2 separate regions of the Homo sapiens genome follow, and region 2 is linked to region 1. Evidence: fine-mapped expression QTL. A gene starts in region 1. The other region holds a variant in brackets. All regions are shown on one strand. Distances are between the middles of the regions.

Region 1 (5,377 bases):
CCTTGCACCTTCATATCTGTTATTAAATCCTTCCTTCCAGTCCATTTCCACCTTACTGTCTACATTCAGTCCGTTTCTGCTGTCATTACTGTGGGCCCAGTCCTCAGAACTTCCAGGCCAGCTATTGCAACAACTTCCTCAATGGGCTTGTCCAAGCCTCCAGTCTTTCCCTACATTGTCGACTGTCAGGAAACCTGCCCTTCATAAAACCAGGTTCTCCAAGGTTGAACATGAAGGGAGAATGTCTAGATAAGGAGAGGGGGCTCAACCAGGAAGCCTTGACTTCTGTTTCCCCAAATTCACCCCCAAAACCTTTAGTTACAGATGACCTTACGTAGCTACTAGCTGTGTTCAGCCATCTTAGTCTAACAATTCAATGGGATCATACTGGACAGTTTCCTACCTTAGAGATATCACAGGAAGATCCTGAAATAGACGCCAAGCATCTGCAAGTCCTATGCGCACTGTTCTCGGAGATAGAGCCAAGGAAGGAATCTTAACCAGGGCACCTAATATTACAAAAATGGCCACTCCAGAAGATCAAGCCATTGAAATACCCATCAGGCATGGTAAAAGTCCCAAGCCAAAGAGAATGGGGGTGGGGGCGGCAGGCAGGATTCTCAACCACAAGTCTCCTTGTATGTCATCACATGGAAATTTCCTTCCACTTCAGGATCAGCGTTTGGTTTTAGTAAGGAAGATGGGGGTTCCTTAGACCCTCTTTCCCCCGCCTCAAGTTTACTTATACAAATAGCAAAGGAGGACATCAGCCCCATGCAGATGGCAGTCCAAGGGGGACAATCCTTCTGTCCTCACGTTGGCAGACACAGATCTCTACTCTGAAGGCTTTGTAGGGGCCTGAGCTCCTTCGGGAGTCTGAGCTGGAACTGAAGCTGGAGCTGCAGCCTGAGCCTTGGTTTGATCCTTGACCTTGGTCTTTGGCTGGCACAGCCTGAGCCCCTTGGCAATGCGGGCACGAGCACGTTTCCCAAGCTTGAGGTGGGCAACGTAGGCAAGAGCTGACACCCTTTGGAATCTTGGGCTTAACCTCCTTGGGGTTTATGAGGGCAAGGCCTCAGCACGTGCACTCATGGCCTTGGCACTGTCGCCCTGCATCTTCTTTAGGCCCCTCTTATTGTGCTTCTTGGCAAACCGCATGTTTGTCAGGAACTTGGGGTCCACCCCTTTAAAAGATTCGTATCTTTGTGATCCGGGTTTCATGATGCCGTTTCTGTGCCATTTTCGGGACTGGTTGTGTGTGGTGTGGTGCTTGGATTTGGCCATGTCTGCACTGTAACCTGTGGCTCCCGAAGCGCCTAGAACTGGCTAGACCCACTTTTCTTGTCACTCCCTGAGACGGCTTCCAGTGGCTTCCAGGCACAGCTAAGTCCAAAGGCCTAGGTCTGCCAATCAAGGCACTCTGCCCTCTGCCTCTGGTGCCTCCGTGTGCTTCCTTCCCTTCTCCCCCGGGCCTGAATTCTGAAGGAATTCATTCATTCTACACTCATTTGTGGAGAGGTGACAGTGCCTTCTGCTATGAGCTGGGATACCTTTTTCACATTTTCCCATATCCAAATATGACCAATCATTGATGGCCCAGCTCAAGGGTCACCACCGATTCCCCTTTCCCTGCCCTCACCACCCACACCTTCTCATGGCACCCATGCCATTCTGCCTTGTATTACAGTTATGTGGATGAATGTCACCTCCCCTGCGTGTCTGAATCCTCTGTGTAATTCCTACTCAGCTCAACACTGCATTTTGCAGAGGAGGAAAAACAACTCCCTCGATTGCTTGGAAATAGAACATTTGCTGGTCTAAATCCTCCAGACAATGAGCTCCACGAGGGCCCGCACTGCCCGCCCTCATCGCGCACAGGGAAGCTGTTCAAGGGCCATCTGTTGAATGAATGAGTGAATTAATGGCTTCACTCCTGTACTCTTCCTTACGCGTCTTTCTCACCATATTTAGCATCCGGCTCTCTAACAACGTGAAAAAATTAAAAGTGGTAAGAAAATTGCTTCGGGTCAAAAATGTGTCATGCAAAAGCCACCGCAGAGCCGGAAGCGTGACAGCGCCGCAGAACGCCCTGGCCTCCCCGCCCTTCCCCGGGCGCCGCCCTGCCCGGGTCCGCGCTCGCGCCCAGCCCCCACCCCGCCTCCTGGGCAGTGGAGGTCCCTGGGGGCCCGGCCAGGCCGCCTTAAAACCGGCGTCCCCCGGCGTCGCGGGGTCGGGCGGGGGCAGGGAAGCCCGGCGGGGAGCCCCCCGCTTCTCTGAGCTCCTCCTTGCCGATCTCCAACGGCCGGCGCGGGCCCCACCTGCGCCCCACGCCTCGGCACCGCGCCGGCCCGGCCCAGGGGCGGGGAAGCGTCCGTGCGCCCAGAGTCCTCGAGGCCCAGCCGGGGGCCCCGCCGGCCGCCCGTGCCCGTCCCAGCCCGCACTCACCGTCGGGGCCCGGCGCTCCCGCGGCGCCGCGGGCCAGGCCGAGCAGCAGCAACAGCGGCAGCAGGCGGCGAGACGGGCCCGCATCCCAGGGCCCCCGGCCCATGCCGCCGCCGGTCCCTCCCGGCGCGCCCGCGCCTCCTCCCGGGGCCCTCAGGGTGCAGAGATAAGGCTACAGGCGCCGCGGGGAGGGGACCAGCCGGCGGCTTCCGGCGCCGCCGAGGGAAGCGGGGGGCGCTGCGGGGTCCCCGGGAGGCCGCAGAGCGCGGGTCCTTCCTCTTGTCGGGGCCTGGGCTTAGGACACGCCCGTTCCGCGTCCGTCTCTGGCTCCGCACTTGCTGCCCTCTCGCCGCTCACATTCGCAAAGGGGGACAGACACTCATCGGATAATGACACAGCTGGACGCAGAGCCCCGGAGAGTGCTGGGGAGGAAATGTTGCGGAGGATTCAAGCCACTCGAGGGCTCAGGGAGGCACCCCCGGGGAGAGGGGTGAGGGGAGCAAGGGGCGGAAATCTTCCAGGACGTGAAAGGGAGCTGGATGAGGTGACCACAGCGCAAGGCCCAGATGAGAGGTCGGAAGACGCAGACCCAGGCCACCCAGGGGCGACACACTTGACCAGGTGACACCTGGTCACCGGGAGTGAGAGAGAGTAGGGCTGTGATGGAGGGAGGGGCTGGCATCAGTCCCCGCTGCTCTGAGGACACCCGGCTTGGGACGCGCTGATGCCAGCCCCTACCTCCATCACAGCCGTACTCATCCCAAGGGAAGGAGTAAACCAAGACCCAAGGATGAGAAGGACGTTGGGGAGGAATCTAAGCGGGAGTTTGTTGTAGAAATGGGGAATGGGGACCTAGAGTGAGAGCAGAGGGTTGGAGAGGGGCGTTGAGCTGCAGAGGGAAGTTAGCCCTCCTAACCCAAGTGATGGAGGTCGCCGGGAAGCTGTCACAGTTTCAAGCAGTGAATGACTTCATCACTGACACATCTCTGTCTGTTCTGTGGAATTGGGATTGGGGTTGGGTTGGGATGTGGAAGGCAAAGAGTCCAGCCCGGAGTTGCTGCAGGAATCAGGCAATAGAAGACATGTCCTGGCCCGGTGCGGTGGCTCACGCCTGTAATCCCAACACTTTGGGAGGTCGAGGCGGGTGGATCACTTGAGGTCAGGAGCTCGATACCAGCCTGGCCAACTTGGTGAAACCCCGTCTCTACTGAAAAAAAAAAAATTAGGTGGGCACGGTGGCAGGCACCTGTAATCCCAGCTACTCGGAAAGCTGAGGCGAGAGAATTGCTTGAACCCAGGAGGCGGAGGTTGAAGTGAGCCGAGCTCGCACCACTGCACTCCGGACTGGGCGACAGAGTGAGACTCCATAGACAGATAGATAGATAGATAGATAGATAGATAGATAGATAGATAGATAGATAGATAGACAGACAGACAGACAGACAGACAGATAGAGATAGAGATAGATGTGTCCTGCAGCTGGGCATTGACAAATGAGTGTGAAGAGGGCAGTGTGTAAGAGTGGAATCCACTAGGTTTTATGACTAGTCGGGGAGAAGGAAATAAATAAGATCCGGTTTGAAGGCTTTGAGCTTGTGATGTCTGTGGGAGCGCAGCCGAGAGCAGGCACCCCACTACTTCACCCCATATCCTCACTTGTTTACTCTCTGCCATGAGCCTGCCGTAAATCTCACCACTTTCAAACACACCCATATAAGGGCTAAAGTTGTGGAGTCTTAACAAGTAGTTAAAAATCAACTTCAAGCTGGGTGAAGTGTGGCATGCCTGTAGTCCCAGCTACTAAAGAGGCTGAAGGGCAGGAGAATTGCTTGAGTCCAGGAATTCAAGGCCCATGTGGGCAATACAGTGAGACCCCCTCTCTTAAAAAAACAAACAAACAAAAACAAACAAAGAAAAAGCTCATCTTCCTAGGCTCTTTTTTCCTCTTGGGGAGACAAGGTCTTGTTCTGTTGCCCAAGCTGGAGTGCACAGCTCACCACAGCCTCAACCTCTTGGGCTCAGGTAGTCCACTAGCCTCAACCTCCCAGTAGCTGGGACTACAGGGGCGCAGCATCATGCCTGGCTCATTTAAAAAATTTTTTTTGTAGAGACAAGATCTGGCTATGTTGCCCAGGCTGGTCTCCAACTCCTTGGCTCAAGCAATCCTCCCACCTTGGTCTCCCAAAGTGCTGGGATTACAGGAGTGAGCCACTGCATCTGGCCTCACAAGCTCTTTTCTTAGCAGGCTTTCTTGAAAATTATTTTTGATCAACAAAGACAGGCACCTGTTTGGGGAGCAATAGATGGACGGTGTGTCTCTATTATTTAGACAAATTTTTTAAGTTCAGCTCTCCATAAACTTCAAACTTGGAAATCATGTCATTGTTTCAACAAATATACCATTCACTTAAGATTTTTAACCAGCCTATACCACTTCATCCCCACTGTGGCCCCTTGCAAAATAAATAAACTTAAGTATATATGTATATACATTTTTTATTGATAATGTCAGGAAAATTTGTCCAAAACTTGGAAATGGGCAAAAGAGATTACTGGGTATCCTTTCAGTGGGGTGCTGGGTGCACCGTCGCTGGACTTCCTATTGACTAGGCTATTTTGCAGCACTAGAGGGCTAGAAGTTAACTTGCCGAAAACTGATGATAATGTAAAAGATTTATGTCCATAGCAGTGAAAATGAATGTTTTCCAAGAGAAATATAAGTGATCAGTCCTTTCTGCCAGAAAATAAATAAGTTAAACCCACTAATTTCATTTTGTCCTATATGATACTAACTAGTTAACCAGTTTGGCACCTATTAGCAAATTCATGTGATCATTCCTGATGTTGGATTTTCCTTTGAACCTTAACATCTTGCTAGTTCTCCTTTGAGATCAACAACTTACTGAGTCCTCCATTAATCAATTGAATAGAATCT
Region 2 (5,377 bases), 30 kb before region 1:
CTGTGCAGCTTGAAACTGTATCTTCTGGAACACTGAAGAATCCTTCTCTGCAAGCATAACGAACCTGGCTGCCCAGACTAGACGTATAATTTCCTATGATATAGCCATCTGGAACCTCAGGAGGGGTACCACAGTCTATTTCTGAAAATAAATTAATGTCAAATTCATTACCTCGTGAATGTAAATCTTCAAAATTCACAATCTCTCTCCACCTCTACCCTATTCCTCACACACACACACCCCCGAGCCATATTTTAAGTACACTGGTTCATTCCCACATGACTTCTGGGAACATTTCCAACAATTGTCTTTATTCAATCTTTTGGCCTTCCATAGGTAAAGCATCTATACATGCACAAAGCTGAAATAACTTAGCAATCAACCCTCACTAATTTACACTAACTAAAGAGAAGCCTTGTCCAGTGAAATAAAAAATCTGAATTGCAAAATACCTTAAGATATATGTACCTTGATTATTTTCAGGGTCACTTTTGAGATGCAGGGACCTTACCAAATCATTGGCATTTACTATCTAACATAGTAGTTAATATCGGAATATCTATTAACTGCTAATAAAAATCCTTTAAGTTTATGAATTTTAGCTTTTTTTTTTTTTTTTTTTTTTTTTTTTTTTTTTTTTTTTAAGACAGAGATCTCACTCTGTTGTCCAGGCTGGAGTGCAATGGCATGATCTCGGCTCATTGCAACCTCTGTCTCCTGGGTTCAAGAAATTCTCATGCCTCAGCCTCCTGAGTAGCTGGGATTACAGGTGCCCACCACCACACCTGGCTATTTTTTTTTATTTTTAGTAGAGATAGGGTTTCACCGTGTTGGCCAGGCTGGTCTCGAACTCCTGACCTCAAGTGATCCACCAGCCTCGGCCTCCCAAAGTGCTGAGATTACAGAGCTACTGCTCCTGGCCTAATTTTAGCTTTTTTAACATGGCCCCCTGTAACTTGATTGTTGTTATTTGCTTTATGTCATAGGTTGTACAAAATGTGCAAAGGATCAGATCACCTCCACCTGCCTCCCCAACACAGGCTTGGAGCAGAAGAAAGTCACCATCAACAGAATTTCACGTTGAGATGCCGCAATTTTTGGCAGAAACCCACCTGTGCATGATGTGGCATCGGTGGTCGGGTGGAAAGGTTCAGGTCCATTCCTTGGCAAGTATCCATCCATACAGTAGCATTCAAAGCTCCCATGAGTGTTCACGCATCGCCCTCCATGCCTGCACAGGCCAGAAACTTCACACTCATCTATGTCTTGGGACCCAATCCAAATAGAGAAAAGGAGATAAAAACAGAAAAAAGAAAAAAAAAAGGAGAGGATATTGTGACAGCCATTTTTTCACATTTTCAAGCTACTCTTGTAAAAAGATGCATTTGTTTGCAATTGTATCATACATTTTATTTTATGCCTTATGGGTTCTTCTCATATATCGTTCATATCATAGGCACTGAAAACATAGCAAGTGCTCAATAAATGTTTGTCAGTGTGTTCTGGGATTTTACAAAAGCTGATAACCATCACCGGCTCCCTGACACCCAACAAAATGAACCAAAAACATAAATATATCCAATCACTAAAAAATATCCTGACCGGGCATGGTGGCTCACACCTGTAATCCCAGCACTTTGGGAAGCCGAAGCATGTGGATCACTTGAGGTCAGGAGTTCGAGACCAGCCTGGCCAACATAGTGAAACCTCATCTCTAGTAAAAATACAAAAATTAGCCAGCCATGGTGGTACATGCCTGTAGTCCCAGCTATTCAGGAGGCTGAGGCAGGAGAATCACTTGAACCTAGGAGGCGGAGCTTGCAGTGAGCCGAGATCACGCCACTGCACTCAGCCTGGGTGACAGAGCAAGACCCCGTCTCAAAGAAAAAAAAAAAGAAAATCCAATCACTAAAAAATCCAATCACTATAAATATATCCAATCACTAAAAGAATCCAGTCACTATAAATATATCCAGTCACTAAAATATATCCAGTCACTATAAATATATCCAATCACTATAAATATATCCAATCACTATAAATATATCCAATCACTATAAATATACCCAATCATTATAACAAAAGAATGGTCCCAACCTCATACTAAAACATCTAAAGTAGGGCTTCAGATAGAAAACAATTTACAGGCCTGGCACGGTGGCTCATGTCTGTAATCCTGGCACTTTGGGAGGACTGCTTGAGTCCAGGAGTTTGAGACCAGCCTGGGAACGAAGTGAGAACCTGTCTTAAAATTAACTTAAAATATAAACAACATTTTTAATGTTTTAAATAAGGAAAACAATCTCCAGGAGAGTGAAAATGCCAGCCCATGAGTATAGGATGGTGTGGCAGGTAATAAGGTGGTAACTTAATTAGGAAAGGTCTTACTAATTTTATGAAAATGAGACAGCCTTAAAACAGCCTTCTGGAAGGACAGGACATGCCCTTTTGCAGATTTTTTTGCACCTGACTGAAGACTATCAGAGGCAGCAGGTATAGGGTAAAAACTGCCCAATAAGCCAGAGGCTGGAGAAGAAATCTCTCTTCCAGTTAGTAGTTTTTTCCCTCAGAACTGACTTTAAAACTTTAAGAATTCCATCAGCTGGGCATGCCTGGGCATGCCTATGGTCCCAGTTGCTCAAGAGGCTGAGGCAGGAGGATTGCTTTAAGTCCGGGAGTTCAAGGCCGGCCTGGGCAACACAGCAAGACCCTCATCTCTAAAAATAATAATAATACTATTTTCATCAGAGCCACATAGTTCAATTCCACTTGGAGAAAACAAAAAAGCACCCTAACTGAAATTCCTAGGACATTGGCATAAAAACATCAGGGATTGAGCAGAAGACAGGAAGCAGCATGATTGAAGAAAGTCTGTTTTTTAAAAAAAAAATTTCAAAAAGCTAGTAATACCATAATTTCCTTTTTTTTTTTTTTTTTTTGAGACAGAGTCTCACTCTGTTGCCCAGGCTGGAGTGCAATGGTGTGATCTTGGCTTATTGCAACCGCTGCCTCCTGACTTCAACTGATTCTCCTGCCTCAGCCTCCTGAGTAGCTGGGACTACAGGTGTGTACCACCACGCCGGCTAATTTTTGTGTGTCTTTTTGTAGAGACAGGGTTTCACCATGTTGGCCAGGCTGGTCTCGAACTCCCGACCTCAAATTGTCCACCCAGTTGGCTCCCAAAGTGCTGGGATTACAGGCATGAGCCAATGCACCTGGCTATAATTTCTTTTTCTTAAATGACATTTTAG[C/T]CCCCAAAAGATAAAAGAAAATTGCCTCAGAATCCTTTTGAACTTTTATATTCTTTATTCTTTTTCCTTTTGGGTCTTGGATCAATGAACGCCTCTCCACTCACACCAATTATTGTTTGGGAACCAGTAATTCTATTCAATTGCTGAAGGAGCCCATCCAAGTCAAACCACCCTCACACAAGAAGTGCCACAGAGCTTCTTCTCCTGGGTTGTGGCTCATGGTGGTTTCCATGATTCCCAGGAGTCATTCAGGGGGCAGTTCTAAGGGCCAGAACATCTGCCTGTTCTCCATGACTGGCTGGAATCATCTCACACTAGAACCCCAGCAATTCATTCCTCCTCTAACATTGGTGACATTCAGAGGCCTACCTGCAACCAGCTCCTGAGCTTGATGTTGACTCTGCAAAGCACAATAAACACCTGGATGCAGGATTCCTTGGAATCCAGGAACTAGGATTCACATCCTGTGGTTCCAGGCAAACAGTGACTAACTGCTGATACCCCAACACTTGCTAAGCTCTGCCCCAGCTAAAGCCCGCTGATGTTTCTCTGGCAACTGTGATTCTGAAAGAAACAGTATTATCAAGAAAAGCAATTCATCAGCTTTTACAAAGTGATAACTGGAGAACTCACAAGGAAAGGTCATGGGAATGGCTGCCAGTGGACATGGTCTTCATGGTGGGGGCATGAAAATGCTCCAAAATGAGACAGTGGTGATGCTAGCACAACTTTGTGAATATACTAAAAACCACTGAGTTGTATACATCAAAAGGGTGAATTTGATGGTATGTAAACTATAGCTCAATTTTTTACAAAAGAGAAGGTCATTCAATCATTGCAAGAATGGAATAAATAAAAGTAGAGCCTAGATCTGGATTTAGTTCCAGGCAGATTAGGTCTAGTTCGGCTGACACCTATTTGGCCCTTACATAAAATATTTTTTTCTCTTTCCTCTTCCCCTCTTCTTCCCTCCTCCTGTTCCCACCAATCTTCTCACTCTTCCTCCTCCTCATTCTTCTTCCTAACTTAAAAAAAAAAAAAATTAAGACAAAGTCTCGCTCTGTCACCCAGGCTGGAGTGCAATGGCACAACCTTGGCTCACTGCAGCCTCAAAGTCCTGGGCTCCAGCGATCCTCCCACCTCAGCCTTCCAAGTAGCTAGGACAACAGGCACAAGCCACCACATCCAGCTAATTTTCTTATTTTTTGTAAAGATGAAGTCTCATTATGTTGCCCAAGCTGGTCTTGAACTCCTGGTCTGAAGTGATCCTCCAGCCTTGGCCTCCCAAAGTCCTGGGGATACAGGCGTGAGTCACCATGCCCAGCCTTCTTCATAACTTTCAAAAGCTGAATTCATCTCTTGGAACTATAAACATACTGATAAATATACAGTTGTAAGTTTTCCCTGGCAAACTCCCACAGCCTAGAAAACACAATTTCAGGGATCATATTCTCCAGAAGATTCCCCTGATTCCTTCCTCACAGCCAAGATAAGTGACCCCTAGATTCCAGTAAATGCTGTTTGCTTACCTATGACTAACACTTTATACTGAAATTAGCTGTCTGCTCGTCACCCTTCCACTAGCACAGTCTTGTCATATAAGAAGTGCATGAAAGGCCAGGCGTGGTGGCTCACGTCTGTAATCCCAGCACTTTGGGAGGCCGAGGCAGGTGAATCAGCCGAGGTCAGGACTTCGAGACAAGCCTGGCCAACATGGTGAAACCCTGTCTCTACTAAAATACAAAAATTAGCTGGGCATGGTGGCGGGTGCCTGTAATCCCAGCTACTCAGGAGGCTGAGACAGGAGAAGCACAGGGGAATCGCTTGAACGCAGGAGGCAGAGGTTGCAGTGAGCCGTGATTGTGCCACTGCACTCCAGCCTGGGTCACAGTGGCTCACGCCTGTAATCCTAGCACTTTGGGAGGCCAAGGCAGGCAGATCACAATGTCAAGAGATCAAGACCATCCTGGCCAACATGGTGAAACCCCGTCTCTCCTAAAAGTACAAAAATTAGCCAGTCGTGGCAGTGCGCACCTGTAGTCCCAGCTACTCAGGAGGCTGAAGCAGGAGAATCGCTTGAACCCGTGAGGCAGAGCCTGCAGTGAGCCGAGATCATGCCACTGCAC

Evidence for each region. PIP is the estimated chance that this variant, and not a neighbour inherited with it, causes the effect. A credible set is the group of variants that fine-mapping cannot tell apart.
Region 2: its variant is the best candidate, but not a certain one, in a credible set for the expression of SUSD1 in whole blood (INTERVAL, PIP 0.79).

What each region holds. Positions count from the first base shown.
Region 1 is chr9:112,172,688-112,178,064 of GRCh38, forward strand. SUSD1 (sushi domain containing 1) reads right to left here and starts at 2,610. Exons shown (of 17, transcript NM_022486.5): 1 at 2,446-2,610. The coding sequence starts at 2,548. It also overlaps the pseudogene RPL29P20. RefSeq lists a silencer at 2,069-2,728.
Region 2 is chr9:112,142,359-112,147,735 of GRCh38, forward strand. It overlaps SUSD1 (sushi domain containing 1), which reads right to left. Exons shown (of 17, transcript NM_022486.5): 4 at 1,113-1,265; 5 at 1-141. Among named protein-coding and RNA genes, the nearest start is that of SUSD1, 30 kb to the right of the region's middle. RefSeq lists an enhancer at 1,970-3,169. The variant C/T (reference allele first, on the strand shown) is at 3,252.